Regions from separate parts of the Homo sapiens genome. Here regions 2, 3, 4, 5, 6 and 7 are each reported to be linked to region 1. The links are microRNA targets in miRTarBase. Many come from high-throughput screens and were not tested one by one. Region 1 holds a microRNA gene; each other region holds the end of a gene's coding sequence.

The links. Region 1 holds the annotated microRNA hsa-miR-1297 (UUCAAGUAAUUCAGGUG, at 2,385-2,401, shown strand). A microRNA usually pairs through its seed, bases 2 to 8, with sites in the 3' UTR of a target mRNA and lowers its output. Matches are read on the target gene's strand: a 7mer-m8 pairs with bases 2 to 8, a 7mer-A1 pairs with bases 2 to 7 and ends in A, and an 8mer does both.
Region 2: miRTarBase lists OTUD4 as a target of hsa-miR-1297. Seed matches in the 3' UTR shown: 7mer-A1 at 1,440-1,446, 7mer-A1 at 2,352-2,358 and 8mer at 4,269-4,276.
Region 3: the mRNA of FKTN is a reported target of hsa-miR-1297. Seed matches in the 3' UTR shown: 7mer-A1 at 2,679-2,685 and 7mer-m8 at 2,113-2,119.
Region 4: miRTarBase lists AGTPBP1 as a target of hsa-miR-1297. The part of its 3' UTR that is shown has no 7-base or 8-base seed match.
Region 5: miRTarBase lists TRIB2 as a target of hsa-miR-1297. Seed matches in the 3' UTR shown: 8mer at 1,819-1,826.
Region 6: miRTarBase lists ZNF608 as a target of hsa-miR-1297. Seed matches in the 3' UTR shown: 8mer at 2,625-2,632.
Region 7: miRTarBase lists ALDH6A1 as a target of hsa-miR-1297. The part of its 3' UTR that is shown has no 7-base or 8-base seed match.

Annotation. Positions count from the first base shown.
Region 1 is chr13:54,309,712-54,314,381 of GRCh38, reverse strand. MIR1297 (microRNA 1297) reads left to right here and starts at 2,334; the gene lies at 2,334-2,410.
Region 2 is chr4:145,133,627-145,138,296 of GRCh38, reverse strand. It overlaps OTUD4 (OTU deubiquitinase 4), which reads left to right. Exons shown (of 21, transcript NM_001366057.1): 21 at 1-4,647. The coding sequence ends at 867. Among named protein-coding and RNA genes, the nearest start is that of ABCE1, 38 kb to the right of the region's middle.
Region 3 is chr9:105,634,610-105,639,279 of GRCh38, reverse strand. It overlaps FKTN (fukutin), which reads right to left. Exons shown (of 11, transcript NM_001079802.2): 11 at 1-4,229. The coding sequence ends at 4,016. Among named protein-coding and RNA genes, the nearest start is that of TAL2, 26 kb to the left of the region's middle.
Region 4 is chr9:85,543,268-85,547,937 of GRCh38, forward strand. AGTPBP1 (ATP/GTP binding carboxypeptidase 1) reads right to left here. Exons shown (of 26, transcript NM_001330701.2): 26 at 3,272-4,019. The coding sequence ends at 3,842. Among named protein-coding and RNA genes, the nearest start is that of AGTPBP1, 200 kb to the right of the region's middle.
Region 5 is chr2:12,740,515-12,745,184 of GRCh38, forward strand. TRIB2 (tribbles pseudokinase 2) reads left to right here. Exons shown (of 3, transcript NM_021643.4): 3 at 1-2,220. The coding sequence ends at 280. Among named protein-coding and RNA genes, the nearest start is that of MIR3125, 5.5 kb to the left of the region's middle.
Region 6 is chr5:124,634,495-124,639,164 of GRCh38, forward strand. ZNF608 (zinc finger protein 608) reads right to left here. Exons shown (of 10, transcript NM_020747.3): 9 at 4,639-4,670; 10 at 2,421-3,412. The coding sequence ends at 3,406. Among named protein-coding and RNA genes, the nearest start is that of ZNF608, 110 kb to the right of the region's middle.
Region 7 is chr14:74,056,460-74,061,129 of GRCh38, forward strand. ALDH6A1 (aldehyde dehydrogenase 6 family member A1) reads right to left here. Exons shown (of 12, transcript NM_005589.4): 12 at 388-4,287. The coding sequence ends at 4,183. It overlaps BBOF1 (basal body orientation factor 1), which reads left to right. Exons shown (of 12, transcript NM_025057.3): 10 at 447-521; 11 at 685-799. Among named protein-coding and RNA genes, the nearest start is that of ALDH6A1, 26 kb to the right of the region's middle.

The DNA.
Region 1 (4,670 bases):
ATCGCAGGCTGTGTCCACCCACCCTGTGATATTGTTATTAATATCCTGAAAGGGAGAGGATGATATTACTCCCCATGATAGGTATTACTCCCCATAATAGAGCAGGAGGTGTACACCCACCCTGCGATATTGTTCCTAATATTCAGAGGCGGAGAGGTTGATATTACTCCCAATATCGCAGGAAGTGTACATCCCCGTGTGAGATGGTCCTTAATAATATTCCAAGGCGGAGGGGGTGATATTACTACATATATCGCAGAAAGTGTACACACCCCAGGGATATTGTTCCCATGATCCTGGAGGGAAGAGGATGATATTACTTTAAATATCACAGACGGTGTACACGCCCCCACTGATATTGTTTCTAATTTCCACGTGGGAGAGGAGGATATGACACCCAATATCGCAGGGAGTAGAAACACTCCTGTGATACTGTTCTGAATATTCAGGGAGGAAGAGGATGATATTACTCCCAATACAGACGGGTGTACACCCTCTGTACACGGAGGGTGTACACTCGTCTGTGAAATAGTTCATAATTTCCAGAGGGGGAGATGATATTACTCCCAATATCGTAAACAGGCTGTGAGTCCACCGTGGGTCGTAATAACCAGGATGGGAGAGGGGCTGGCTTTTACTCCCCGTATGGTGGGGGGTGCCTCACCCCTTTGCGATGTGGGTCTTAATAGCCGGGGAGGGGGGGGGAGGGGCTGGCTCTTACTCCCCGTATTCACCCTTATCTGGCCCCACCCGCATCCTGCTGATTGTTCCATTTTACAGAGAGCTGATTGGTGCATTTACAAACCTTTAGCTAAACACAGAGTGCTCATTGGTGCGTTTTCAGTCCTTTAGCTAGTCACAAAAGTTCTCCATGCCCCCACCTGATTAGCTAGACACAGAGTGCTGATTGGTGCGTTTACAAACCTTTAGCTAGATAGAGTGTGCTGATTGGTGCATTTACAATCCTTTACCTAGACACAAAAGTTCTCCAAGTCCCCACTCCATTAGCTAGACACAGAGCGCTGATAGGTGCATTTACAATTTTTTAGCTAGACACAAAAGTTCTCCAAGTCCCTACCTGTTCCAGAAGCCCAGCTGGCTTCACCTCTCACTGTCACTCACTGCAGGACTTTTCTGCACCTAGCCCGGGCACTCTGGCAGCCCAGAGCAAGCTCATTCCCTGATCTAGCCCAGCAGGCACCGGCAGGACGCACTGAGAGTGGGGCTCGTGGAGCCTGCACCCACCGGGAACCTGTGTTGGCCCGCGAGCACCACATGCAGCCCTGGCTCCCGCCTGCACCTTTCCCTCCACACCTCCCCAGGAACAGAGGGAGCCGGCTCTGGCCTTGGCCAGCCCCAGAGAGGGGCCCACATGGTGCAGCGGCGGGCTGAAGGGCTCCTGGAGCGCAGCCAGAGTGGATGTTAAGGCGTAGGAAGCGCCAAGAGCGAGCCAGGGCTGCTAACACGTTGTCACCTTTCAATAGTGTCTACTTCTAACCATTTGGAAAATACAATCATGTTTTGTAGTCAATTTGAAGATGACATACCCAGATTTTTCAATAGATTAACAACAGATTTGATAAATTATAGTAGAGTATCTCTACATATCCATTTTACCCCATGTTTATCTGATTTGCTCTTCCATGTTTATTTACATCACTTTTTACTTTTGCATTCTACCCAAGGGTATTTGCTGGAGTAGGTAGGAATGTTAACTCCCATCTCTAATAATTTCTGAAATTGCATGATCCCTAAGGAAAAATATGGTCATGTACTGTACTTCTATATTAATAATGCTTTTTACTTATGGAAATTTGACAAGCCATTGAAGGGTAGAAATGATTAGTATGTTGGATATAATGGAAAGTACTCTCTACTTAACTGATTCTTCATTTGTTTTATTGCATTAAGGGGAATAGAGCTAGCAATGAATTTACCTCTGCTTGAGTTTTATTCCTTTGATCTCTTGCTTCATGGAATCTAGCTCTTCCTTTCTTTTAATGATTCAGTAATTGCTTACCATTCCATTTTTCTATCCTTTGACCTAAGCTAACTAGTTTTTTTCAGTAGCATAACACTACAATAACTGTTATTTCTACTATTTCCCTTTAGAGTTATACAAGTATAATGAGGAGTCCATTGAATTGTATTTTAACTGTATAAATACACAAAAATGTGAAATGTTGAGAAGTGAGTCAAGTTTATATGTTGCATGTAATGTATCATACATAATGTGTTTCTCATCTTAGATTTTCATAGGACAACATCTTCAACCTGTAAAATGATATTTTGAGGAGAGCAGACATTTCAGTGAGTCTAATTTTAAAGTTAGGTGTTTATCTCTAGGGTTGATCTATTAGAATTACTTATCTGAGCCAAAGTAATTCAAGTAATTCAGGTGTAGTGAAACACTTCTAATTTTAAATTCAGAAGCACTGAAGAGTGAGTTGGATTATTGGCTGTAGCACTTACTTGATCCTCTTTCTTATCACCCTTGACTTTTAAAGCCTGGCTTTAAAAAAATATATGCTTCAGAAATTCATGTGCTCACCAGCATTTGATTCATTAATTTTGAAAGACTATTACAAAGGACTCTTAGCGATGATAAGTTTAGAGATACCAAAAACCCAAGTCTGAACTTTGACAATTAAAAGACATGTAAAAATGCCAGAATGAATCATAGGTTCCAAAGTAAATCTTGGGTAAAGGTGACATCATAACAAGCAAGTCATAGGCAAGTCACAATTGCTTTTAAGTCTAAATCCTCACTCAGTGACTTCTTCGATTTAAAGGTGGGGAGAGACTAAAGAACTTTCATTTTGTCAGTGTTACATAGGTTTTCAGTGTATACATTTGAAAGACTTTTATCTTTGTGATTCATTAGCAAGTGTTTCAAAAGGTTAAAGAGAACACAGATTTTATAGGTATCAAACTAAACTTCTATGTGTCAGGCCTCTGAGCCCAAGCTAAGCCATCATATCCCCAGTGACCCGCACGTATATATCCAGATGGCCTGAAGCAACTGAAGATCCACAGAAGTGAAAATAGCCTTAACTGATGACATTCCACCATTGTGGTTGGTTTCTGCCCCACCCTAATCTCCCCCACCCTTACAAAGTTTCTTTGTAATTCTCCTTATCCTTGAGGATGCACTTTGTGAGATCCACCCCCGCCCCCAAAACATTGCTCTTAACTCCACCGCCTATCCCAAAACTTATAAGAACCAACGATAATCCCACCACCCTTTGCTGACTCTCTTTTCAGACTCAGCCTGCCTGCACCCAGGTGAAATAAACAGCCTTGTTGCTCACACAAAGCCTGTTTGGTGGTCTTTTCACACGGACACGCATGAGGCACTATGTGACTAGGCACTTAATGTTGATTTTGGAGACCTAGGGATAAACTTAGTTAACTTTTTGGATATCCTCTTTCCTTTCTCCCTGCCTCCCTCCCTCTCTCCTTCCTTTCCTCTTTCTCTCCTTCTTTCTCTCATTTCTCTTCTTTAATATGTAACAGCATTTAGCAAGAGTTGGGTTAACATTTCTGGCATTATTATAATCACAATTTCCATCCAGTATTCCTTATTGCAGTGTATTTATGTGTGTGTGGTATAATGTGTATACCTACAGATACACACTAATATGAAACATATAATATATAATTTTATACTATGGTAGAATTGATACTAAAAAACACTGTTTAATATTAAAGAATTACTTATAAACTGAGTTTTTAATGCTTACCAAATTACATTCCAGTACTGATGTAAACTGTTTTCAAATGGGAAACAACAAAAAGTTACACATTTTAGTGCATTATTACCAAAATAAAATATATTTAGTTATCTTTGTCTTCCAATTTTTTATAGCTTGCTGTTTACTCTCTACTGTGTTGGCACAGTAGAGATTAGAAATACATCATTATGCTGTTTTACATGTAAATAATTCTGAATAATAATAATTCTGAATAATTCACCATTCCACTGGGGAAACAAGCCAGAAACTACTACTTGATATAGTCCTTAGATGGAACTAGAATTATTACAGGGAGAGGAGAAGGGAAAAAAGGTGACTTCAAGATAGCTAAGAATTTTAAAAAACAGAGAAGGGACAGAACAGCTCTGATGTGTTAGAGTGAGTGGAGAGAGAGCCCTTTTGCGAGAGAAGGGGCTCTTGGACTTGGTGGGAGGCAGTCTGCATGCAGATGGCTGTGTCCCCATCAGGGAAGATTTGAACAATTAGTCCAAGTGGTGGGTAAACAAGTTTCTAAGCAAAGAAAAAATAAATTTAGTTAAATGAGAGGAATAAGTTCAAGAGACCTGTTGCACAATATGGTGACAATGAATTGTATTCTTGAAGATTGCTGAGAGTAGATTTTAAGTATTCTCACTACACACACAAAATAGCTGTGTAAGGTAATGCATATGTTTATTAGCTCAATTTAACCATTCCACAATGTATACATACTTCAAAGTGTTATGTTGTACATGATAAATATATAAAATTTAATATGTCAATTTAAATAAATATGTTTTTAAAAATAAGAAAACATCAACCCTGAAAAAAAGAAAAAAATAAGTCACCAAATTTCAGAAAACAAAAAAAGAAATATGCTAAAAGTAAAGCAATGTAAAGCACATCTCAGGAAAGTGAGTATGCACAGACTTTGGT
Region 2 (4,670 bases), not on the chromosome of region 1:
TATGAAGAGTCACTAAGTGGCAAGAATATGTTCCCCCAGCCATCTTTTGGACCCAATCCATTCTTAGGCCCAGTTCCTATTGCACCTCCTTTCTTTCCTCATGTTTGGTATGGGTACCCTTTTCAGGGATTCATAGAAAATCCAGTAATGAGGCAGAATATTGTCCTGCCCTCTGATGAAAAAGGAGAATTGGATCTGTCTCTGGAAAATCTGGATCTGTCTAAAGATTGTGGTTCAGTTTCAACAGTAGATGAGTTTCCAGAAGCCAGGGGTGAACATGTACATTCTCTCCCTGAAGCAAGTGTGAGCAGTAAGCCGGACGAAGGCCGGACAGAGCAATCTTCCCAGACACGAAAGGCAGATACGGCATTGGCTTCCATCCCTCCTGTAGCAGAGGGAAAGGCTCATCCTCCCACTCAGATTCTAAACAGAGAGAGAGAAACTGTGCCTGTTGAACTTGAACCTAAAAGGACCATTCAAAGCCTGAAAGAAAAAACAGAAAAAGTAAAAGATCCTAAGACTGCTGCTGATGTGGTCAGCCCTGGGGCCAACTCTGTTGATAGCAGAGTGCAAAGACCAAAAGAAGAGAGTTCAGAAGATGAAAATGAAGTGTCTAATATTTTGAGAAGTGGTAGATCCAAGCAGTTCTATAATCAAACTTATGGAAGCAGGAAGTACAAAAGTGATTGGGGCTATTCTGGTAGGGGTGGATATCAACATGTGAGAAGTGAGGAGTCCTGGAAAGGACAGCCAAGCAGAAGTCGGGATGAAGGTTATCAGTACCATCGAAATGTCAGAGGGCGACCATTTAGGGGAGATAGGAGGAGATCAGGGATGGGAGATGGCCATAGGGGACAGCACACTTGATGGTTGTTGCCGAAGTATTTTCTAACAGAAACTCTTAGGTGGAATGTTTCTGAAGGCTTTAAAAAAAATACAATAAAGTAAAAACCGCAGTTGGAACTCTTTCCTCTCCCCAGCCCCCCTTACCTTCACTCCCATACTGGACAAGACATTTTGGACATGAGTTCAAGGGGGCAGGTTAATTCCTGGCATTGCCAGTTTTCTTCATTCAGAATCTGTTTGTTGATCAAGTGACTGTCCCCGTAAAAAGTAGAAGATAAGTTTGTTAAAGTATTTTTTATAAACAGCTTAATATAAAACATTATAGATTTAGTGTTTGGCTTTTTTCCTTATAAGTTTATAAGTTTGATTTCAGATGTTGGAAATGTGTGCTTTATAGTGTTTACTAAAGTGACAAGAAAATATACCATTTGACACACTATAGATTCCAAACATAACGTTGCACCAAATAGAAATGTATATTTTATTATGCAATGCCTTAGTCATAAACTGGGCTCAAACAATTCTCAGCCTAAAACACTGTTGTCTTTTAAAATGCTTCCAACCCAAAGGCCTTTCATCTCAATATCTGTCAAACTTGAATAATGTCTTCTCTTTAATATTCACATAAGGCAGCCTATTAACTGTGTCTTAGCAATGTTGTATATAGTTCTTTTAATATTCATAAGGTATATTTTTGAATTTTGGTATTTGTTGAGATTGCATAGAAGAATAGTAGGAAATCCAATGAAATGGCTGTTTCCACCAAGAATTCTTAGCACTGGTGTAAATATCATGGTGCCTACTCGAAAGAAATGTAGATGCTATGCATTTTGAAAATAATCTGCATCAGTTAGAACTGCAGAAGTTTTTTTAATGCCACTTTAACACTAATGCACTGACAGATTCTAAATATTTTGTGAGAAGAAATGTTAAAAATTTTTAGCTTGACAGGTTTCTAGAGTTGTTTTCTTCCTCCCCCCCCCCCCCGCACCATTGGTTGTGTATCACTTTCACTTTACACTTGCATGTTCTACTTGTCAGGGCTGGAACTATTGTATAGAAGATAATATGATTGTGACTTCTAGTTCTTTTCTAGAGGATGCTGCTAGAAAATGGTTTTGCTTTGTATTTTATAGCTTGTTACCCTTAGGTAGGTAACATCTTACATTCTGTTTTCTTCCAGTCTTTGCAGTATTCACTAGAGGTTCCCTTTGCATGTTGCACTCTGTTCTCATTTGGAGATTGAACTCTGAATTAACACAGTATTCATTCATCTGTGTTATTTTGTAAAAATAACTGTAGCTTATATTCTTTATTTGTGCATACCAATGTGAAAATCCACTCTTTTATTATGTTGAGATTATCTTCTGATCAGGAAGTTTGAGTGCTATGCAAATAACATAGTAGTAATTTCTCTTTGCATGCCATGTGTAATATACCTAGCCAAAACCAGATGCGGTGACTTTCTTTTTTTGTAAAGCAAATTACTTAAGAAAATACAATTCACTTGAATTTGACAAACTGAAACAGATGGGTTTTCTGGGTTCTCTGATAACCTATGGGAATGTTTGGATGCCAGTTGGGCTAGTGAATCGCCACTGTACTGTAATAATGGTTATTTACCTCTGTGCTGTTTTAATTACCTAACGTCTGTGTAACTGCTGATTTGAGTAGTGATTAGCATTTAGATAATGTAACAGGATTTTAGAGAGCACTTTGAAAGATAACATTTTATTATGATGGTGCTAGGTAAAAAATTGTAAAGACTGGGATGGTTGTGTGGAAAACTTTTCTTGAGAGAACCTATTGAAAGGAATTTGTTGTCACCTTCTTAACTAGAATAGTTGTTGAAGGTACCGCTTAAGCCATTTTTTTCTTAACATCGGTGGCTCAGTTAAGGAATGAGAAGATAGAGGGTCCTCCACTTTCAGCTCATGCTTTTTTATGTAGGACTAGCTTACCTGATTTTAATGAAAATCACATTTTGATACAAACACCAGATTTGAAAGTTCAATGTGTTTGATCTCAGGAGTCCAAAATAAGTTGTTGCTTCTAGTGTCCTGCATTTTATTGACTGGGGTTTGATCTCAGCTTCTGAAAATGTTTAAAAATTGGAAGGAAATACTACTCATATCTTCATTGTCACTTTGTCTTACCTCAATTGAGTAACAGAATATAGCTCCTGAAGGAAACACTGATTTGCTTTCTGTTTCCCATATCTCACCTCTAGGATATGATGGAAGAAGTGCTTGAAAGAGAATTTTAGCAGATGGTACTTTTCTCAGTGACCTCTGGAATAAAAGAACTGACTTTTGATAGTTTTAAAATTAATCTTTGCATGAAGGTTGGTTTCGCTTTTTTTCCTTTAAGTTTGTTTTTAAATGTATTAGTCCAGGGGATTTTGCCTTATGCTGAGGTCAAACTAAGGATAAGCAAGCTTTTGTCCTTCATTTTAACTGTTATGTCATACTGTTATGTTGACATATTTCTTTATAAGAGAATAGAGGCAAAAGTATAGAACTGAGGATCATTTGTATTTTTGAGTTGGAAATTATGAAACTTCACCATATTATGATCATACATATTTTGAAGAACAGACTGACCAAAGCTCACCTGTTTTTTGTGTTAGGTGCTTTGGCTGAACTTGATTCCAGCCCCCTTTTCCCTTTGGTGTTGTGTATGTCTCTTCATTTCCTCTCAAATCTTCAACTCTTGCCCCATGTCTCCTTGGCAGCAGGATGCTGGCATCTGTGTAGTCCTCATACTGTTTACTGATAACCCACAAATTCATTTTCATGGCAGACCTAAGCTCAGACCCTGCCTTGTCCTGGCAAGCATAGGTTTTCCCAGACCACAATGCTGATATATCTTATTTAATGCAGACTGTATTCTTGCAGCGTGTTGTTTCCTTTGTGACTCAAGGTTGAATTAAAATGCCTGTGAACTGCAAACTTGCTTATGATTGACTTGGTGCAATAAAGTTCCTTTCTAACCATTTCTGGTTTAGAAAACATTCAGCCATCCTAGAAACTAGCAATATTTATTTTTGCCTCTTTCGTTTTACCTTCATTTTTAGATGAGGTAAATGTTTTGTCTTTTACTTAAGGGTACTAAGCAAGGTCCACTCTAGTGTAGCTGAAGAGAATGCATATTTGGCTACACTATTTCTGTTTACTGTATTTTGCTTCCTACTTTATGTCTAAATGCTATTGTTTGTTTAAAATCCTAATAATGTCTCATTTCCAATATGTTATTTTCAGATAACTAAGGTTTTGCTACTAATGTCAGCCATTTACTCTCCCACTAATTGGGATTATTTTTTAAAAGAGGTCTTTCTCCCCGAAATACAAGTTTTAGAAAATCTTAGAAGAGGGGTGGGTGCATGTCTTAATGCTGGGAAGCGGCAACTTTGGGGTTGAACTTACTTGAATGGATTAAAAATTGCATTGTGTTACAGAGCTAGAAAATTTTATGTATGAAAAACGATAATAGCCTTACACTGAGTACAAATAATACTTTAAGAGCATGTGAAGATGTGATCATTTGTGATGTTACTTGTAAAAAAAAGTATATATACATATCTTTTGAAGTGTTAAAAGGAAACTAGTACTTTATATTCTTTATCATATCACTTTTTGTAAGTGTTGAATATATTCCTGTTTATTTTTCTATGTTCTGTTTTGTAGCCTTAAGAAGTGTTTCAAACATATCTGAATGTATAAAATAAGAGTAAATGCCCTACATGGTGTGATGCTGCATTATATATAAAACTGTGTGCATATATTAAATTTTGTCTCTTGATTCTGCTTGTGATTCTTTGGTTC
Region 3 (4,670 bases), not on the chromosome of region 1:
CCAGGTCTTAATGATAGTGGAAGACAAGGAGGAAAGAGGGAACGTTGCTGGGATTTTTCTTGAGAAATTCTCTTGACTGGTCAGTAACTGAAGTTTTTCCATGCATTAAAGCTATTACAACTAATAATTACCTGTTAGAAGGTGGGAATGTGGCACTTTCTTGACTAGGTTTTGAGGGAATATTTCTCCTAAGGATTTATAACATTTAGGATTTAAAAAACTGTTCACTTTCCAGAAAGTGAAACTAGGGGGGAAACTTAGAAAAATATGTAGCCATAAGTTTGGGTGAGATTTTAGACTGAAGTGTGGAAGCTCATTCCAAATGTGTTTTCCAGATTTAGCTCTGGTACCCAATGTATAAATTCCTGCTTACCTATGTAATATCCTGCCTATCTATGTGCCATTTGAAGTACTGTAGTCGTGTAAGAATAAAAACAATGGTTTGAGGTCACAAACTCAAAAAGGAATGAGTACAATCTATTCTTAACTACCTGCATTTATCAGAGAGTATCAATATAAATAATTAAAAGTAGTTTAAATACTAAAAACTAGATACTCTAGTCTCCTTTCCAGCCAAGCAGATAAAAAAAAAATCTTGAAAACTGCAAAGTGACTCCAGTTACATCTATTATTCTTTTTTGTGAATGAGACCACTACTACCAGGGAAAGGTCCCTTAGGAAGGAAAGAGCCTCATAAAAGGTCACTTCAGGAAGGGGAGAGACTTCAAATACAGGCATTTAGCAGGTTGGTGCTGATGGTTCCCTTGGGAAATAGAATGGTAAAGTGGCAATGGGATGCATCTTGAGCTTAGAGAATTAGGTACCAAAGGCTGATGTCTCCAGATGTGAACTGTCTTATTGTCTGGAGAGAAGGCATTTTCCAGATAAAGGTATGAAGGTTGCCTAAGAATTCTGAATTCTGAACTAGAAAATACTTCCCCTTGACCTCTCTGTCGCCTTAGGTTCTCAATCTGAACAAAAAGATACTAAGCGGCAGAAACACCCTGAGACTTAGCCTCAATGAAGCACTGGATGCCTTCTCTGTTAAGCATCTCAAGCACTGTTAAAGATACTGTGTTGTGATGCGAAACAGACATTGGACTAGGAGTCACGGCAGTCTTGGGTTTTAGCCTCAGCTGTTCTTGTTCAGATCATTCTTTTCTGTGATTATTTATTTAGTTATAAAATAAGAGGGTTTAAAAAGAATATTACATTATGGTTTTTCTAGCTTTTAAGATTCAAAAGCAGAATGATTTTCACTTAAGTTTTAACTTGTTTTGTGGGGATACTGGCAAACATTCTGTCACCTAGTGGTCAATTTCAGGTTTTGCAGCTAGGGAATCAAAGAAATCAGCTGTCCCACCAAGCAGCTACTCTTAGGGATGCTCAATTTTAGGAACTATGGTTTTATTCCAGGGGCCAGATATCAGTAGCTGCAGCAGAGGAGAGAAGGACAAGTGCTCCCTGCTTAGAGAGGACTGGGTGACTACCTGGTTGTCCTGGTTATCAATTAAGAGGAATCTTGCCTCTCAGGATGTCTCTGGAGACATTCATGGGTGCCTAACTACCAACAAGTTGTCAACTTCCCCAGGTAAGCCAGGTAAACTAAACCTGAAAGTGGTCAGATTAGGAGAATGACTGCTAGAATACTCAAGTGATGAAAGAAAAGTGATCCAATGAGGTACTGAAGATGGATATACCTAACCCAAGGTCTCTGGACACTCCACAGAACCCAACTGTTAAAATACATAAGATGAAGTATGGATGAATCAGAATCAGAGGTAAGCCTGGCCTTCAGATTCTAGAGAAGGCTTTTGTTTCCCCAAGTTAGGGTGGAACCCATGAGCTGAAGCCTGTGAAACCAGAAGACAAGAAAAGTATTTCAGCAGCCAGTGGTCTATGTAGGGAAGAATATAGAACCTGTGTCAATTGGGCCAAGATGTCTTGGATTTCAGACACTCTTAAGACTTTGTACTTCAGGAAAGGATAAAAGATTAATCTGAAAAGGGATGGGTAAGATCTCCTGGCAAAGAATGGGAGTCCCAATTGGAAATGGGGAGAAATGTGGAGTGTATGCATTTCTAAATACTGAGCACAAGCAAATGGTCCTCATCAAGTAGGGTGGATTTTGCCCAAAAATAGTATTATTATTTGTTCTATTATTTTTAAGCATGAAAAATGAATTTAGGGTCAGCTATTTAGAATTTGGGAATGCACTCTATGGGCTGATTTTCTAGCAAAGAGAAAATGGATTATGATGATGTGCCATTTTGGGACAAGTTTGCTGACAATCTTAAATGTCTCCAGAAACCACTCATGTTATTTATGAAAGACCCAATAATTCTGCATTGAGAATGCAAATTAGGACAGAAGACTGTTGGTTATCATTTATCAAAGGTTTTCATGTTGCTTTACAAATCCGGAATGGGTGGTTGTAAGTTACTTTCTCTAATTTGTTTTCGAAAAAGTCTACCAGCCCATTCCCTCAGACATTCAGGTTTCCATTCTTGAGACTACTATTGTTCTCTGGTGTCAGAGGAAAATCTGCCAAGCTCCAGAAAGTAGTCCTAAATAGCATAGATAAGATATAAGATTCAGCTTCCTTTCCTAGACAAAGAGAAAAATAGCAGTGCTTATTGTGCCTACATTTTCCTTTACCTCTCACTTACAATATATCATTCAAGTGATATAAGAGAGAGATGGGGTAAACAGCATCCTAGCTGACTCAGACATCTTGAGGGGAAAAGGAAACTAAAGCATTCCAGAGTGTGTGGTACTTGGTAAAGTAGAAGTCTGAGTTCTTGCCCCATCGACATTCAACAGACTGAAAAACTGGGGAGGGACACAAACTTTACAAACTCTATGATCTGAGGTAGGGTGAATAGTTGTCAAGTCCACCATTTAGCTTCCATTTTGGAGATCTGATATATTAGAAGAGGAGAAGAAACAGGCAGGTTTACATGCCATTTAAATTGGTATATAGACCATAAATTAGAGATACGAAGCTGTAATTGATAAATGAAGATAATAAAGAGTATGTTTTAAAAATTAGAGTATATTTAAAAAATTCTATTAATATTTTAGTGTCATTAAAATTGGGAGTGCACAGATTATAAATTCAGAAAATATAAAATGTACATGAATTTCTCATATTTTTACCTAACAGACTGTCTGAGAATAAAATAAAAATGAGTTTTGTGAAATCATGGCCTCTTTCAAGATCATGTCTAGTAACATGGTCTCACTTGAATGATTTGTCAACAAGTGCCATCAGAGGTCAGTGAAAATATTCTCACAATGGATGGAAATTTAAGCATTAAACAAGCATAAAGTTTCTTCTCACTTCACATATGAAAACAGTACATGTACAGAAATTTACTTATCCTGACAAGTAATAAGCTCTGATACAAATAAGCTCTCACCTTCCCTAAAAGAATAATGCCTTGTTCTCTAATTCAATTCCACATAAGATTAGTTGAAAAATGAACCTGATATCATCTTTTCTTGATGTCACTCAAAGTCTGATCACTTGAATATTAACTCAGACTCCACAATCTTAAAAGTAGCACTAACATACCAGCTTAAATGCCCAGAAGAGGAGTGGGTTATTCTTTTCAACTAGTATATCCTTCCTTAGCTTTGCCTGGTGAGCTCATCTTCCAGTTCAAACATTACTTCACGTTTTAAAAACCTGTACAGAACTTGAACTCTTCAAAGGGTGGGGGAGGGTTCCCTCAAAGGAAAATTGAGTTGTTTACCAAAAGGAGGAATAAAAGAAGTAGGTATTTGTCTCATTCATCTAGGCTTCTCCACTGTAACCTAGCATTGTATGTGGCACATGAAAATTCCTCAGTACTAAGTGAGAGAATTACATCAGATGACTCTTTCTGTGTCTTCAAACTTGTCACATTTTTTCTTTGGTTCCCACTTATGTTTGACAAATAGACATGTATTTTTTAAACAGTTATCTACCTTTTTTTCCAAAAGAGAAATTCTCCCATTTCAACCTACTATCTCAATATAACTGGATAACCTCATCCCACTCAGAAATAGGCCAGATTCCATTGGGTTGCACATTGGGAGGAGAGCGCTTCCAGTCCCACGTCTTTACAGGAATCTTCCAGGTCTTACCATAGTTGGCTTCAATGTATTCGAGGGTTTCACAGGGTACATGGACCTTCATGTCTACAAACTCAGTCCAGCACAGTGTAAACTTCGGAAACAGGTATCTGCAGCAAAACAGAGGGATTAGGCTTCAACAGTGGAAGAAGGTCTAGCTAAGGAATCTAGCTGCTAGTGCATTATTGGCTGAAGGACAGTGCTCTCCCATTACACAGCTTTGGGAAGAGAGTGGATATTTAATTATTTTTGACTGTCCAGAATCCCTTTCCTCTTCTCCAATTTTCCTTTCCTGTTCCAAGCTCATAGGATTGAGGAGAGGCTGACCCCATCACTAAGACTCAGGCCAGTAAGTTAATGATTGAGGCAGGGATGGGAACATACCCAAGTCAGGCAAATCAAAGTCAGCCTTGGGCTTTCTGTTGGAACTGTAGAGGAAAGAAGTGTCAAAGTAGAAAGCTGTCAAAAGATGGATGAAAATGATCTTTTTCTTTTCTTTCACAATCTGGATTTTCCAAGGATACAGAGTAAGCAGGACTCCAAGTTGCATT
Region 4 (4,670 bases), not on the chromosome of region 1:
TTCTCCCCAATGCTAATCTGCAGTTCACAACTCCTGTGATTCTCAGGAAGGAAGGTGTGATGCTGGAAGAGCATACTGGATTATACTAGTGATTCTCAAAGTGTGGCTCTGCAGCATCACCACCTGGGAATTTGCAAGGAATGCACATTCTTGGACCTCCACCCCAGGTCTACATAATCAGCAATCTGTGTCTTCAGAAGATTCTGATGCACATTACAACGTGAGAACCAGTGGACTAGACCAAAACCACATTTAAGAGATTCAAAGTTCCAAATGCAAGGTAAAGGAAATAAATCTAAACTCCATCATCAGACTCAGTTTATCAGATCCCATCACTGCTGCACAACGTAGATCATTAATTTTTAGGACTATAGCATTGAAGACATCTAAGCCATAATTTAAATACTGAATAACCGAGAAAAAAAATGAGGCCACAGAAGCAAAAATAAGGGCAATTTTAGCTACTAATAGCCAATAAAAGTTAATTATATTTCTAACTAGGAAAGTTAGGATTTTATTTTAATTTTTTTGTTTTTATTTTTTGAGACAGTCTTGCTTTGTCGCCCCAGCTGGAGTGCAGCGGCTTGATCTCGGCTCACTGCTGCAACCTCTGCCTCCCAGGTTCAAGTGAGTCTCATGCCTCAGCCACCCAAGTAGCTAGGATTACAGGCGCATGCCACCATGCCTGGCTAATTTTTGTATTTTTCGTGGAGGTGGAGTTTCACCATGTTGGCCATGCTGATCTTGAACTCCTCACCTCAAGTGATCCACCCGCCTCGGCCTCTCAGAGTGCTGGGATTACAGGCATGAGCCTCTGCACCCAGCCCTAAATTTTTTTTTATATTTTCAAAGCTATTTATTGTTTATGAAAAAATCATTTCCTAACTATAAAGAATTTCTCCTTCAATCTTGTGAATATTTAATAAAAAGCTTTATTCAGGCTCATAATGTATGCTAAAGTACTTCATTAATATAAAATATTATAATACGTAGTTAGGAGTTTTTACACTAACATAATAAATGGAAATATTTGAGTCATTCTGCACATTATAGTAACTGTAGTTACTTTTAATTTCTAATTTTGTAAAAGCCAAAAACAAATTCATATACAGCCAGCCCTCCATATCTATAGGTTCCATATCCACAGATTAAGTCAATCTCAGGTAGAAAATATTCAATAAATAATAAACAATTTTTAAAAACGCAAATTTAAAAAACTGCCAGGCATAGTGGTGAGTACCTGTAGTCCTAGCTACTTGCGACGCTGAGGTGGGAGGATTGTGTAGGCCCAGGAGTTCGAGACCAGCCTGGTCAAAGTGTCCCATTGTGAGTCCTCGTCTCTTAAAACACACACACACACTATACAATAAAACTATTTACAGAGCATTTATATTTATATTGTATTAGGTATTATAAGTAATCTAGAGATGATTTAAAGCATACAGGAGGATGTCCATAGGTTAAATGCAAATACTACTCCATTTTATATCAGAGACTTCAGCATCTGTGGATTTGGGTAACTGTGGGGGGTCCTGGAATCAATCCAAGAATACCAAGGAACAACTAACTGTATGGACATGGTGGCTCCATAATCTACTCTCTGAAGAAGTATAACTATAATAAAACATGTAATTGTTTTATACATAAAATATACAAAACATAAAATAATTGTTTATAATTATAAATAATTAAATAAATGATTACTTTCCTTCCTAAATTATCCTGATCTTTCCTAAATTTGGTTACTACACTAAGAGGACTAGTTCAACTTCACAGTCTATTTGATCTTTGTTTTCTGAGATTAGTAAGAATTAGGCTAGGGAAAAAGACCCCTTTTTCAATTGCTCCATACTACATTTTTAAACATGGCTCCCCAAACATCAGAAAGAATCTACACTGTTAATGAAATACTTTACATATTAAAAAGAAAAATCATTGATTTGGACCATGCAAAATTCTGAAATACATCTCTATCATTCCAATTATAACAGGTTAAAAACACTATAGGAAAAAGTGAGGAAGATATGTGCCAAAACCTAAGCACCTGAATCCTGGCGAAAATCTGCAATGAGGTATCTTTTGGAGGTTGTTTTATTATATCAGAAACTTAGTTCTTAAAACACTTATCCAAAGTCAATGGATTTGCTTTATTTTATTTAAAAATAAAGTCATTCTTGCAGCAAGAGGGCTAAAACCCAGGTAGGTTTCATTACAAGAAAGGATTTAGCCAGGCACGGTGGCGCACGCCTGTAATCCCAGCACTTTGGGAGGCCAAGGCGGGTGGATCACGAGGTCAAGAGATCGAGACCATCCTGGCCAACGTGGTGAAACCCTGTCTCTACTAAAAATACAAAAATAAGCTGGGCGTGGTGACGGGTGCCCGTAATCCCAGCTACTTGGGAGGCTGAGGGAGGAGAATCGCTTGAACCCGGGAGGCAGAGGTTGCAGTGAGCCGAGATTGCGCCACTGCACTCCAGCCTGGGTGACAGAGTGAGACTCCGTCTCAAAACAAAAACAAACATACAAACAAACAAACAAAAAAAGGGTTTAAATGTACTGCAGTCATCTAGGACTCTGATACCAGCGTCAGCATGCCCTAAGTCCATTCACTTCAGTAAGTCTAATAACACAGCACAGCTCGAGATGCTGAATAAGCTCAATAGACAAATGCACACTTAACATCAGATCATCTCCTCACTGCATTTTTCAAGCTTCTTAACAAACTGTTCAACTGCAGTGATATACTTTAGGTGTATCCGTGAGGCACAGTATTAGAGAAATGGGCTGTTCAGATATATCTCTTATGATAGGTGTGGGTATACCTCTATCATAACAAAATCTAACAGTAGTATATTCGGCTTTTTTTTTTTTTTTAAATTGAGACAGAGTCTCGTTCTGTCACCCAGGCTGGAGTGCAATGGCACTATCTCAGCTCACTGCAACCTCCGCCTCCTGGGTTCAAGTGATTCTCCTGCCTCAGACTCCTGAGTAGTTGGGATTACAGAAACCCACCACCATGCCTGGTTAATTTTTGTATTTTTAGTAGAGACAGGGTTTCACCATGTTGACCAGGCTCAAACTCCTGACCTCAAGTGACCCACCCACCTCAGCCTCCCAAAGTGCTGGGATTACAGGCATGAGCCACCATGCCCAGCCAACTTTCTTAAAAACAACTTTTTATCACTGTGTCCAATTCTGGGTTTTTATCACATTCTCACAAAGTTCTATACATCAAATAATCTGAGCTGGTTAAAGAAGATGACAAAATGAATGCAACATTTAATACAGTTTTTATTTGTTTAATTTGGTAAATGTAGAATGTAATGGTTTCAAGGCAAACCCTGGACTACTTCAGTCACAACCCAATAGTTAACATGATTCTGAAGAACAGTCTTATCTGCAATATCTACCCACTTCTAAACAAACACATCTATAGAAATCCATGTACATATATATTAGTTTTCAACAAGTCAGGATTTTCAACAACTCTAAAATTTCAATTTTATATTCTGAACACACTTCAAAATTATCCACTTGATGCAGGATATAACCATAGGGAGATAAAAATTCATGCAATGATACTCAGGTTTTTTTTTTAAAGGTAAATCCAATATTTGATCATTCAATGCTACATAAAGTGCATTGAATATCGAAAATAAAACAAGCGCCAATTTTATCATTAATTAATAACACATTTATTATCTTGAAACCAAACTGGCCCAAGTTACTTTTTGTCTTTTTGAGTCAGCTCTGTATAAACTCATTTCTCTCAAGCTTCCTGGGAAATAAAAACCAAGATATTTCATTTATTCTTTGCAGTTAACAAGAGATGGCAGCGGGCTCAAGGTAGGTATGTTCTTGATAATTCAGAGTCAGAAAGTACTTCTTCTTGAGCAGAAGGTTCATAATCTCCTACATTTTCAGCCAACTCAATATCTAACTCATCATTACTTTCTGCACTGTAATCAACTTCTTCAAGGAATCGAGGTTCATCTTCATCCAAGACATAAGTGGTAGGGCTGCAGCCAAAACACACAGAACATACAAGACTTTGTGAGGTCTTAAGGTCCTAATATAAGATTATTTCACCATACTGGACTAACTTTGATTCCAATATAATATAAGCTGCATTAACTTTAAAAATCTTATCCAAATGAACAAGTTGAAATTTATAATAGGTGAAAGTTCCTTGTATTGACAATAAGCAGTGAAATGTGAATCATTAATTGTATTACAAGAGTATCAATATATATCCTAAAATTAGATAGATAGCTTAAAAAACAGTGAACTCTCTCATCAGGTTATTTCTTTGAATGATTTCATCAATTTGCAGGCTAAGATTTATTTTTTAATTCTACTAAAATCACTGTGTATCAGGCAAATATAATTTCAATAGTCCTTACAAGAAACTGTGAGCATTTAATTGGCTTCTCGAGTAATGCACTAAAACCACTCACTCTAAGTCTATAAAGTGATTAGCTGCCATAAAAACAGCCCATATACCCACCCCACCAGTTTCCGTAGGTCAAGAATAAAACTGAAAAACAAGTGAACACTCTACACCCAGATTAATTACTTTCCCTAAGGACACAGAATAAGACATTTGCTTAAAAGCACTAAGTGCTTCTAAATATTTCATGAAGTAGGTTGTTTGGGACTGAGACAACTTT
Region 5 (4,670 bases), not on the chromosome of region 1:
GTACCCTTTCCATGACATTGAACCCAGCTCCCTCTTCAGCAAGATCCGGCGTGGCCAGTTCAACATTCCAGAGACTCTGTCGCCCAAGGCCAAGTGCCTCATCCGAAGCATTCTGCGTCGGGAGCCCTCAGAGCGGCTGACCTCGCAGGAAATTCTGGACCATCCTTGGTTTTCTACAGATTTTAGCGTCTCGAATTCAGCATATGGTGCTAAGGAAGTGTCTGACCAGCTGGTGCCGGACGTCAACATGGAAGAGAACTTGGACCCTTTCTTTAACTGAGCTCATGCCCCACGGAGACTTAGCAGGTTCCAGGAGTGAGCGAGGGCAGCGGAAAGGAGTTCTTCCGGGGGACACGAATTGCCTGGCTGAGTAGCAAGAAAGACACACTCTTAAGTTTCTTGGTTCAGAGCAGGAAAACCTTCAAGGAGCTGACTGACCACGTAGCATGGGGGCAAGAGGCGTGGGATGGGGATTGGGGTGAGATGGATGGGAGCCCGCTGGAGCTTGTCTTCCCTAACATAGCCTGGGAGACCACCCCTTGCCACTTGGGCCACTTCCGCCTACCCCACTTTTCATTTTGTTCCAAAATAGTTGCAGATCCTGACAGAATCAAAACTCTCTGCCTCAAACACACATCCTGGCATCGCACTGTTAGCATTTAACTTCTTGTTAGGATTCAGGGAAGGAACAGTTGGCCAAGAATTTTTTTTCTTTTAAACAAGCCAACCACCTAGCTGGTAATTAATGAGGTTCACTTAAAAAAAAAATTCGGTGCACACAGACTGACATGAAACCTGGGTGCTACAGTAAAAGAAAACAAAAGTCCAGTTTGTGTCTCTTAATCGCTCACTTCAACTCATTTCTTCTAAATAAACTATTTAATATCCTGGTCAGGAAATGACATGTTAATGCTTTGCTCCCTGAAGGGGGAAAAAATCTGTCCTTTAACAAGCTATTCTGTTTTGTGTCAATTGGTTCGTGGCAGGAAGCTATTAGAAGTCAAACGTCCAGATGCATTACTGCTATCTTAGTTTAAAGGGGGAAAGAAAAGGGAAGAAGAAAGGAAAAGAGAAATCCAACTCCTTTTTCATGTTTTGCTTTTGAACAATGAGGGTTTGTGTGACAGGCATTCCTCTTTGCTGAGATGATAGCAATGGCCTGAGATTTTAGCAAGCTCCTGGAGTCTGATGCTTTTGCAGTACTCTGATCGCAACTAAACATTTGTCTTTGTTTTATTAGAAACTAGTGAAACAAAGCAGGTTGTCCCACATGTATAAAATACAGGGCAGCTATTTAGTTTTCTTTACAGAGAATGATCCTTTTAAGGCTTGTAAGGCCCTCTGGTTTGGACAAAAACCCTCAGTAGAGACAAGCGGGAAGGATAATTAGCTGAAAGCTATGATGATATAAATAAAAACAGCTCTCTATCCCAATACGCACCTTTGTATTTTCAAGAACTCTTCTATTTATTAAGGAAAATGTCACATTGTGATGTATTAAGCCAGTACTTCAATTACGGGTTGACTTGGGATGACATATTACATGCTGTAGTTAACATTTATAATTCTTTTTCCTTGTTTGAGTATTTCTGTCTCTGAAATAACCTTTTACTTGGCTTTTCTAGATAGCTTTATTTGATTTCGAGTGGCAAAATGTTTTTTATTACGGCTTTTCTATTGCTGTATGATACAGAACTCTTTTGGCATAAATATTTGTGTTCCCAGTACCTCACTTGTTCGGATTTGACTGCCTGTATATGTTTTGTGAAATGGTCCTGTTTTTGGGTAGGTGACACGTGGACTCTAGTATGTAAATGTTACTTGAATCTGTGCTTCATAATAGTGTGTGGCATGTATGTGCAGACTCTTGGATGCTTTATGCCTGCGCAGCAGGAGCCCTGTCCTCACGTTCCCAGGAGGGCGGCTTCACCCTTCGTAACCAGGAGACAAGGCGGCCATGGATTTGCCCTTGATTCTATTTTGCTAATGGAAGATAGAAAGGAGAGAAGGTTTTTTTTTTTTTTAACATTCTGAAGATGGTGCTGTGTCAAGAAGGACCTTTTTTTTCCCCTCTCCCCTATTTTTTAAGTACCTTGGAGGAGGAGAGGTTGGTGACATGCATGGTGGGGATCTATGGCCTCTGGTGCTTTGTCCTGTATTTGGTTTAATGTTTTTGTCCTAATCTCTTCAATCAATAAAATTGTGCGTATTTAACTAAAATGCTGGAGTCTGGAAAATGATGATTTTTTTGCCACCTGTGCTTTGTGGTCACCACACACCGGGCAGAAGCTCACATCTTACAGGCATTTGCTCTTTCAGGGTGAGCCACTGCTACTACTTTTAAGACATGGAATCTCCCTTTCATCGTATTGGGGCATATGCTGTCCAATCTGGATGCAATAGCTCACACTGAATTAATCGTCACAACAACTGTAGGTGACCTAACTTACGTTCCTAATACAGATTAGGAAATAAACCCAGAAATGTGCATGCCTTGTCCAGGGTTAAACTTGTGAGTGCTAGGCCCAAGACTGGACCCCATGTCTGGTTAGCCACAAAGCTTGTTTACTCTTTCTACAATGTTAAGAGTCCAGATGTTCTCAGGGAGAGTGTAGTAATAGCTCTAGAGTAACCAGGATTACGTAGGGCACAAGTAATCCAGGCCTACACATGGTTTCCCCAGGAAAAGCCCTGTGCTGCAAACTTGAGTGGAACCCTCCTAGGAGACCACCCAACTCCCAGCAACAACATCTGCCCAGCAGCCCTTACTTGAGTCTGAGATCCGCAAATATCAAGGTTGCTGGGGCTCGATAGACAGTCGCATCCGTAGTGCACCTTACTTAACAGAAATAACTACGGCCCAGAGAAGCTCAATTCTCTCCTGAAATGTTTGCTAAGCACCTCTGTTATTTCAGTGTGTGCTGGGAAGAGACATGGAAACAGACAAATGCAATGAGTAGAATCAAGTGGTGGGGTACACACACGCAGGATTGATGGAAGCCCATCAGATGGACAACTCCTGTCTAGGTCCGTCAGAAGGTGTCCTGGAAGGGGTAGCACCTGAAGCAGAGTCCGGAACGAAAAGAATTTAGATAATAAGAGAGACAGCAGCAGCACTCTATGCAGGGAGGATGGTGTGAGAAGTATTTAGAGACTTATCCCAGTTAACACCATGAATGCCAAGCCCTGGATGGAGTTCATAAAAGATCTTGCAAAGACTGGAGTTTGTGGTTTACAAGAGGATGTGGCTGAAGCAGAGGCTTCCTGGCCATTTGGACCAGTCTTCTAAATTCACAAAGTGCTTATTATTCAGTGACATCCCTTCTGTGTCCTTAGCACCTGGCTCAGCAGCAGACACCTGACCCAGTGCCTGGCACATGGAGGTGTTCAGCAAATAACTGTTCATGGATATAATTTGTGCCAGGAGAGGGTGGCCTCTATATGCTCCAAAATTTCCTTCCAACCCCAGGTGTCTAAGATGCACATTATTATAACAGGAGCAGACTTTGTAAGTATTGACACCTATCATTGGCTTTTGCTAGGGCACATATAGGCTGATCCAATTTTTTTGTTCTTTTCCCTGCCTGTGATTAAGCAGACATGGGTCTGTTGCCTAATGAATGCCCGTTTGAATTGTGCACTGTCGACCATTCGCCTGTGTGGTTGCTGGGGGCCGGGGGTGGGTTGCTGGCATGCACACCCCAAGCCACTATATAATGAGCTTCCACCGCGGTGGAAACCCAGACCCAGCAAGCTCCTGCTCCCTTGCCCTCTGAAGACTTAGCCAGTAGAAACCTTTCATTTTCTAATCCCCTTGGTGATAAGACACTTTATCCTTTTTTCTACCAATCTGGACCTGGGGCAGGTCAAGGGGCCTGGGCCACAGGAATGAGGGCAGAGGTGTGGCGAGGTAGCAGGCCTGGGCTCTGAGTTTCTACGCTGCTGTGAACTACTTGCCTATTATGAGGACCAAGGCTGTTGGGAGGGTCGACTGAGCTAAAGTGTGTGAAGGGCTTAGCCCTGCCTAGGCTGGAATAGCGACTGTTACTATGATCAGCCACAGGGATTCCAGGGCAGAGTTCTTTTGACTGGGCAGTGGTACCGGAATGGAGGATCTATTAGGATCCGTCAAACACAGGTTACAGAGACCCTCCCCTGCTGCAACCGAAGCAGCTCCACTTTTACCAGTTTTTACATATTAGTTGTTATGTAGACTTTTAGGAAGGAAAATGAGAAGTTTCGCTTGTATATATGTGCTATGGTCTGAATGTTTGTGTCCCTCCAAAGTTCATATGCTGGAAACTAATACCAAATGTGATAGCATTAAAAGGCAGGGCCTTTTGGAAGTAAGTCATGAGGGTTCTGTCCTCATGAATAAGATTAGTGGCCTTATAAAGGAAGTTGAGGGGAACTGCCTTGTCCGTTCCACCGTGTGAGGACACAGCAAGAGGCACCATGTTGAAGCAGAGAGTAACCCTCAACAGACACTGAACCTGCTGGCACCTTGATCATGGACTTCCCAGCCTCCAGAACTGGGAGAAATACATTTCTATTATTTATAAATTACATAGTCTAAGGTACTTCATTGTACCTTACACTGAGCCTGAATGGACTGAGATAATATGTTTGAAAACCACTATCAAGTCCAAGTCTTACAATTTTTGATAAAG
Region 6 (4,670 bases), not on the chromosome of region 1:
ATTATCATTTAAACTGCTGTTTTTATCCTGCATCAATCAGAGCTATTCATTCTGGTTACTCACAGACCCTTGGGCTGAAACCACACTAAATCAGGGTCACAGCCAGTGTGAATGTATAAGGCCACACGTTTTACTCTGCAAGTGTTAATGACCTGGGCTGAACAGCAATGGCAAGTTTCCATGAAAAAGTCATCTGAGATTGTAATCTAGGAATAAATGGTTCTGTATGGAGCCTATTACCTGGTTTTTAATATTCTGTATTCAAGGGGACCACAGCTGTAAACAACTCTTCACTCCCATTTCTCCATGAAGTTAATTTGCACTGTGTCAGCACTGCAGGCTTTTTGCATATGTTCAGGACAAGCTGATATGAGCAGGCCTGGAATGAGTAATGTTTAGTAAAATCAATAAACCCTATTATTAGTCACTAAGGGGACTGATTTTATGTCTATAAAAGTAAAACAATTAGAATGTATTAATGGCAGATTCATCATAGTAATATAATGGAGCCAAGTACACTTGTCTTTTGGGAATCTTTAATTTACCACTCGGTACTGACTATATACTCAGCCAGAGAAATGGCACACGTAATATAAATAAGCCCTGGCCTTTGGCAATTCATGTTGTCATCAGCAAAGACAACACTGTAACAGTAAGAGGAAGAAACAAAACTTCATTTAGTGATTAATGTAAACCAGTCACGAATAATGTTCCAGTAAAAGCCTAGGGGAAGAGCCTATTCAAATTGCAATGTGCTTTTGGTCATATATCTCTTTGTATTTATCAGCATTCCTGTTTATTACAGGAGCAGAGTTAAACATGGTCCAATGCAGCTATTTATAACCTGTTTACTTAACCACCTAATTAGAAGTGATTTTAAAAAGCCTGCTATGTAATAAACATACATCTAGTCATTTTGCAGCTGAAAGGTAAGATTGGCTTCCATATATATTATTAAGAGCAAGAAAATCATCAGGAATCCACAGTATCACCCAGCTACCAACAAGAACATGAAAATTCAGCTAGTGAAGATGTAAGTTGACCTTAGTTCTGCTTCTGTGCTTTGACAGTTAAGGGGTTGGTTAAGAACTGGATCAGCATGTAGGCAACCAACAGATACCCTGCCAACTATAGTCTGAACAGAGAAAACATACTTGCTTAACTGGTATAAGACAAATTACCTCAAGTCTTCAAGGATAATCAAGATGTCGTATAAAAACGAAAAAGCGTTGATAGCTTAAAAATGATGAAAAATATGTGAAATACTCTTATGTATAGGATTAAACACCACAAACGATATTTTTATAAATAACAGCTTGGATGAAATTCAAAAGAAAAACTGAAAACTAACAGAAAAATATCTTCTTACTGAAATCTATTAAGAACATAGACTAGATGTGTAAGCCAAGCAGCAAAGGCAATACTCTAAGGTGGTCTTTCAAAATCAAGGGAAACATTTCTTTTTGATTGCAAAATTCTATTCATTTCTGATGCAAAGGCCTCTAGGTAGAACTAACCAAATTATACCAAGACAAATTCCGTCAGCTTAAAGAACTTTTTAGTAAACCACGTGGTAGCACTGTCATTAGCAATTATAGTAAAATAATAAAAACTTACAGCTGGAATGGAGCACTGAAATCAACCAGTCCAAACATACAAAGCACACTCCCACCTTGGGGCTTCGGTACTTGCTCTTCCATGTCACTGCAGTGGTGTTCCCCCAGATGTCTGCATGGATCCCCCCCATCTCTTTAGTGGCCACTCTGTTTACAGTTACAAACTCCAGCACATATTCACTATGCCCCACTCCCATGCTTCATTTCTCTTCATTGCATTTATCAACCATCTAACATGCTCTATATATTATTCAGATATTTTATGATATGTTTATCCCACCCACCAAAAAATGAAAGCTCCATGAAGACAGGAATTTGTGTCTGCTTTGTTTACTGCAATATGCCAGAACCCAGTGCAGTGCTTGGGATAAAGCAGGCACTCAGTAAGTGTTTGTTCCAAGCAAAGAAGGGAGAGAAGAGGCAGTTAAAATTTGGCATAAAATATTCTAGTAAATCAATGTAATGACAGCTAACTGACTAAATGACTTTTTACATATTTTTCCTGTTATCCACATGTCATAACATTTGCATCTTTGAAGTATCATTCCATACCATAGAAACCTGTATCTACTAATTTCTAGTGATATCGTGCTCCATGTTTAGGGTAAATACCCTGTAAATGGGAATACATTCACCGAATTAAACACACTATTTGGTTGTTATACCTATGTATCCTATAAGAAAAGTTAATATCTGTTTACTGTATCTTATGCATTGGATATTAATAATATTAAGAAACCCTTCTTTGAAAATTAGAATGACTATCAGCCAGGTAGAAAATAACATGAGACAGACAAGAAGCCATTATTTAAAAAAAAAAAAACTTTTTAATTCTGATTGCCAAATTATTTAAGGCAGGTATAAAAAAGGAAAGCATTCAATATACATTTTACATAAAATAAACTAGATTACAGCATAAAACAAGTAACCAGGCAATGGCGTTAAAGTCTCTCTCTTCTAAAACTGGATAATTGTAAACATTAAAAAAAAAAAAAGACTGTAGAACTATTCAAGTAATAGAACAATCACAGATGTCTCTGGTACGCAGGCTATTGGGTTATTTGCCATTCAAGATTATCAAAAAATGACACCTCATTATTCACAGATGCTCATTATTTCCCCATTTTAATCTTTACATTATATACAACACAGTTTTTGTGGTACTGGCAACCCCATGCCTTCCAAAAGTACTTTTTCCACAATACACAAGTACAAACAGTGACTACAGGAACATTTTACACTGGTGCGTCTTTAACAGGAGCCACCAAATAGACATCTAAATTGTACCAAAGTGTCATCATCACAGTTAGCCTTTCTGAGGGGCTTATGGGAAATATGTGAAGGATATGCAAGGTTCAGGCACACTGATACATAACATTATTTATTTACAATTTTAAAGGAAAAGGAAAAGAAAGTAAGTAGCCTTTTGTGGCTAACACTTTTTAACATGACAAATACATTTTTAATTTCCTTTACTGAGTGGTTTGCGACGTGGCAGCAGACCCTGTGTGTGCGAGCCTGGTTACTGATACAAAAAGTAAAGAATATATTTATATTTATATATATATATATGTATATATACAGATATGTATACGTATATATATATAAAACAGAAGTTTAATTACAGCAACATTTGTTACTCTGTGATAAAATCTGTAATTTACAAAAATGAAATGACTGGTTTTTGCCTGCCATTAAGGCATTTCAAATTAACACCATGGAACTGATGTCTGTATAAAGCGCTTCCCCATGTGATCCAGTCACATGACAATGTACATGTCCAATCTTGTTATTCTCTGCAAAAGAAAAGCAAACCTTAGCACACGGTTCTATCAACATTTTGTTTGTTTGTTTTTTGAGTCGGAGTTTTGCTCTTGTTGCCCAGGCTAGAGTGCCATGGCTCAATCTCGGCTCACCGCAACCTCTGCCTCCTGGGTTCAAGTGATTCTCCTGCCTCAGCCTCCCGAGTAGCTGGGATTATAGGCATGTGCCACCATGCCTGGCTAATTTTATGTTTTTAGTAGAGAGGGGGTTTCTCCATGTTGGTCAGACTGGTCTCAAGCTCCTGACCTCAGGTGATCTGCCCACCTCGGCCTCCCAAAGTGCTGGGATTACAGGCATAAGCCACCACACCCGGCCAACAGTTTTTTTTTTTTTTAGTTTTGAGACAGAGTCTCACTCCATCACCTAGGCTGGAATGCAATGGTGCAATCTCAGCTTACTGCAACCTCCACCTCCTGGGTTCCAGCAATTCTCATGCCTCAGCCTCCCTAGTAGCTGGAATTACAGACGCACACCACCACGCCCAGCTAATTTTTGTATTTTTATTAGAGATGGGGTTTCACCATGTTGGCCAGGCTAGTCTGGAACTCCCGACCTCAGGTGATCCACCTGCATGAGCCTCCCAAAGTGGTGGGACTACAGGCATGGGCCATCATGCCCAGCCTCTATCAACATTTGGCACTGTAAACCAGAAAACCATAAGACCGATAGTCTTATTTTAATTCCATTCAAATGTGGAATTCAATTCCAGAGAAAGTGAATAAACATAAAGTAATGATATACATTGTGAAAAATATTAATTTTATAATATTAATAATTTAATTCCTTTAAATCATTTTCCTTCATAAAACTTAGGGAATAATTTAAAATATCAAAGAACAAACATTACCTTTAGCATTATGAAAATAAATGTCTCCATTTGCGACTTTATCTTTAAACATAATAAAACAAAGGGAGTCATGGTGAATTATTTTAGAAATGCCGTAAGGATAACCCAAGAAAATTTCAACTGTCTAAAAAACTAATCAGTTAATTACTAATCTATGTAACCCTTACAGAATGAGGTTCATGGAATTTAAGTTGCATGTGAAGCAACTTATATTGGCATAATAAACACATTCATTACAATGATATAAAACCCAAGGAGTTAAGTTTTTGGTCTAAAAATCCTGTACTTGCTTCCTCCCAACCATTAAGATATTTCTATCTACAACTAATTAAAAATGTAGAGGATATTTACCTTCTTTGTCCAGGAAACATTCCAGATGCAGA
Region 7 (4,670 bases), not on the chromosome of region 1:
AAAGTGCTGAGATTACAGGCATGAGCCACTGTGCCCGGCCCTAATTTTGTATTTTTAGTAAAGACAGGGTTTCACCATGTTGGCCAGGCTGGTCACAAACTCCTGACCTCAGATGATCCACTCACCTCGGCTTCCCAAAGTGCTGGGATTACAGGCATGAGCCACTGCCCCTGGCCAGTTATACATTTTAAAATAACTAAAAGAGTGTAATTGGATTGTAACACAAGGGATAAATACTTGAAGGGATGGATACTTCATTCTCTATGATGTGATTATTTCACATTGCATGCCTGTATCAAAACATCTCACGTACCCCACAAATACGTATACCTACTATCACCCACAAAAATAAAAAATAAAAAAAAATTAAAATACAAAAAGAAAATATGAAGGCATGAGGAGACACTGCCTCATTCATTATCTTTGTTGACTTTTACCCACTACAGGAAATACAACCAGAGTTCTAGGCCTCCAGTTCCAGACTATGTTGTTTCTGACAGTGGGGAAACAAAGGAATTTGGGTAAGAGCTCTCTTGCTTAAGTAATAAACATGAGCCCAACACGATGGTTCTTGTGGGCATCTTGAATGTGCTAATTGAAAGTAATATGACAAGTCTGTTATTCTAAACCAGGTTTCATGTGTGTAGAGTTGTTGACGGTTCTGTTATTTTGTCATTATTGCAGGGATGAAAGTAAGCTTCAAGATAAAATCTTCATCACCCAGCAAATTGCAATATCAGACTCTTCTGGTGAAGTGGTGCTACCCACTATTCCAAAAGAACCTCAGGAGTCTGACACAGTAAGGAGTCTGTATCTAATCAAACAATGTATATTGTTGTCACCCTTCCCCATGTCGCTTCTTGCTAAATCACGGTTATTTTCTCTACTAGTTGAGAGACTTCAGGGATCAGTGGAATGAGTAATAAATAGCATTAGTAGATTACATAAATTTTTAAAGCAATATCCGTACAAATGCATATTATACTAATGCAAATGCAAATGTGTGCCTCTTTTTGTGTAGAAACCTATAGGTTGCCTTTTGAAGTAAACAGCCTAGCCAAAATGTGTACTATCTTTTACGTAAGAGTAAACATAGTGACCTTGTGACTCTTAGCTTTCCATCACAGGTGGGAAGTCAGAGTCATTACAACCTAGAGGACAAAGGCTTATAAGGAGATATGAAATGATTTTTTTAAGCCAAGTTTTTCTCTTTAAGAGTTTTTAATTTATAATTTGTTATTCATAATTAGTACAATGTAGAATCTGAGAAATTTCAAATGAAGCCACATTAGAACAAAAAGAAAATACTGACTTTTTAGCCGCGATCACATGAATATAACTGATGAGTTTTTTTCATCTAAGAAATAAGAAACTCTGAGCAGCAAATAGTTGGCCAGATGAGTTGTTTCTAATTAGAGCATCACAGTTCTGATTAGTGTGTTTTTTTAGAAGTGATTTCCCTTAAATATAAGGAAAATGTTAGGAATCTCTGTGACTACATTTAATTCCACTTGGAATATAGACAATAATGACCTTTTATTTAACCCAGCCTATAGTTGTTGGATTGGATTAAATATCACTACCAGGGCCAGGTGCGGTGGTTCACGCCTGTAATCCCAGCACTTTGGGAGGCCGAGGTGGGCGGATCATTAGGTCAGGAGATTGAGACCATCCTGGCTAACATGGTGAAACCCTGTCTCTACTAAAAGTACAAAAAATTATCCGGGTGTGGGGGCATGCACCTGTAATCCCAGCTACTCGGGAGACTGAGGCAGGAGAATTACTTGAACCCAGGAGGTGGAGGTTGCAGTGAGCCGAGATCGTGCCACTGCACTCCACCCTGGGCAACAGAGCGAGACTCCATCTCAAAACAAAACAAAACAACAACAAAAAAAATCACTACCAGTTGCCAGCTGTGATAAGAGCTAAAACAAGGGGTACTGTAGTCTCAAATTATAAATTTCTATTGCCTCATATTTAGGAAAGCAGAAAAAAAAAAAAAAAAGGCCCAGTAGGATCATAAGTGTATTTTACAAAAGTTCCAGTCACCTTAAGTGATTGAAGGTTTTGACATTTTATCCAGCCAGGTGGTAGTAATAAGCCTCAAATCCACAGGGTACACAACATTTTCAAGGTCTTTTTTTTTTTTATCATACTTAATTCATGAATAACCCCCATAGTGTAGGTTAGTTAGCACTATCAAAGTGACTGGTAAGGACGCAGGAAAATAAAAAGAGGATTCAATTGGATTGGTACTGCAAAAAGAATCCATTCTGTTCAGCACATGAATTTCTGTTCTGACCTTAAGTTTAGATATATCAAAGAAACAAAAAGCATAGAGGCGGCTGGGGGTGGTGGCTCACACCTGTAATCCCAGCACTTTGGGAGGCCAAGGCAGGCAGATCACCTGAGGTCGGGAGTTCGAGACCAGCCTGACCAACATGGAGAAACCCTGTCTCTACTAAAAATACAAAATTAGCCAGGCATGGTGGCGTATGCCTGAAATCCCAGCTACTCAGGAGGCTGAGGCAGGAGAATTGCTTGAACCCGGGAGGCAGAGGTTGCAGTGAGCCAAGATCACGCCATTGCACTCTAGCCTGGGCAACAAGAGTGAAACTCCATCTCAAAAAAAAAAAAAAAAAAAAAAGCGTAAAGGCAGTTGAACTAATGGCAGAAGAAGACTGTCAAAGCATTTTTTTTTAACCACTTTATGTCATGGAAAGCTTCGAAATTTCTTAGGCCCAGTTAATTGCTCTACATGAAGAGTTCTTCATTAAACAAATCACTAATTAGAAATACAGGCAAGAGAAAAGAATATATAAAATTTGGCAAGTAATAGCAGGTTAGATTTGCTTAAGGCAGGTGTCTTACCCATTTTCATGGTTGGAACAATCCTTGATTTCTGGGCCTAAAATAACTTTTGAAATAATTTTCTAAGAAAATTATTTGCATCTGGCTGGGTGTGGTGGCTCATGCCTGTAATCCCAGCACTTTGGGAGGCCGAGGCAGGCGGATCACCTGAGGTCAGGAGTTCGAGACCAGCCTGACCAACACGGAGAAACCCCGTCTCTACTAAAAATACAAAATTAGCTGGGTGTGGTGGCGCATGCCTGTAATCCCAGCTACTAGGGGGGCTGAGGCAGGAGAATCGCTTGAACCTGGGAGGCGGAGGTTGCGGTGAGCTGAGATCACGCCATTGCACTCCAGCCTGGGCAACAAGAGTGAAACTCCATCTCAAAAAAAAGAAAAAAGAAAATTATTTGCATCTGAATTAATGGCTGAAGTATTAATTAATGATTGCTGAAGAGAACCCTGAAACTTAGTACTTGGCACATATAACAAAAAGTTGATTTATCCATTGCTTACTGAGGTATCCTTGAGAAGTGATCTTAAGCAGGAGCAGTGACAATGATAGAATTAATAGTGGTCATGAATTACTAGGAAACAAAGTGGCATTGAGCAGAAAAGAAAGAAGCTGTTGCCACAACTTTGGGATATATAAAAATGGATTATATCTTGTGTATTGTGGGATAAAAGAGGGGCTAAAGAAAACTTTGCAGGAGGTCTCTCCCAGTGGCATTTAGGTAGCGCTATGTTTGAGGATCAACCAAAAGCGGTGAGTTATTTCTGTCCTGTTTCCCCATCTAAGAGTTCTTCTTGCAATTATTGGAACATCTTCTTTAAAAAATTTTTTTTCCCTTTTCTTTTTTTACTTTTTCAATTTTTTTAAATAATAGATACGGGGTTTCGCCACGTTCTTCAACTCCTGGGCTCAAGCAATCTGCCCACTGTGGCCTCCCAAAATGATGGAATTACAGGCGTGAGCCACCGCGCCTGGCTGGAACATTTTCTTTACATACACTGGCTTTTCTCCCCTTCAAATCATCAGAAAATGGGATAATTTTTAGAAATCAGGTTTAAGCACTACTTTCAGATAAGCATTTCATAGTTACAACAGTTACCTCAAAATAGAAGTATGAAGAGCAAGTGAGAAATCTGGTTTCATTGTTACACTAGGCAGTTCCCTATAGAAACTTTGCGGGGGTTAATAGTCCTGAGGAAGATTTTAGTTACAATGTATTCCAATCCCATCGATCTGATCTGAGCAAAGCTGACAAATGAAGCTGGTCAAAAATAAAGGGAGATTACTCAGGATGGAGTCAGTCTTAAACAAACTTGTTTCTAACGGCCCATGGTAGGCATGACAACAGCAGGTGAGGAAAGAGTAGCATCTTCTTCTTTCCACTGAGAAGTAATGGTCTTTAACTGAGTGTAGAATTGGATGCCCTAAGGAAAACAGAAAAAAAGTTAGCATATATTTCTGGGGTTTCATGATTCTTCTTTTAATTAGCTTTTGAAGGAGGTATTATAAAGTGCTACTCACTTTCCTAATTGAGAAATGCAATCAGAATCCAATATATATTGTTCCTAAGATAATTGATCTAAAACATTTAACATAATACCTGGCAGATAGTAAACAATCAAACCTTAGCCATCATTATTATGCTGAAACTAGTATTTCTTTCTTTTTTGTTTGAGATGGAGTCTTGCTCTGTCACTTAGGCTGGAGTGCAGTGGCATGATCTCAGCTCACTGCAACCTCTGCCTCCCGGGTTCAAGCAGCTCTCCTGCCTCAGCCTCTCGAGTAGCTGGGATTACAGGCACCTGCT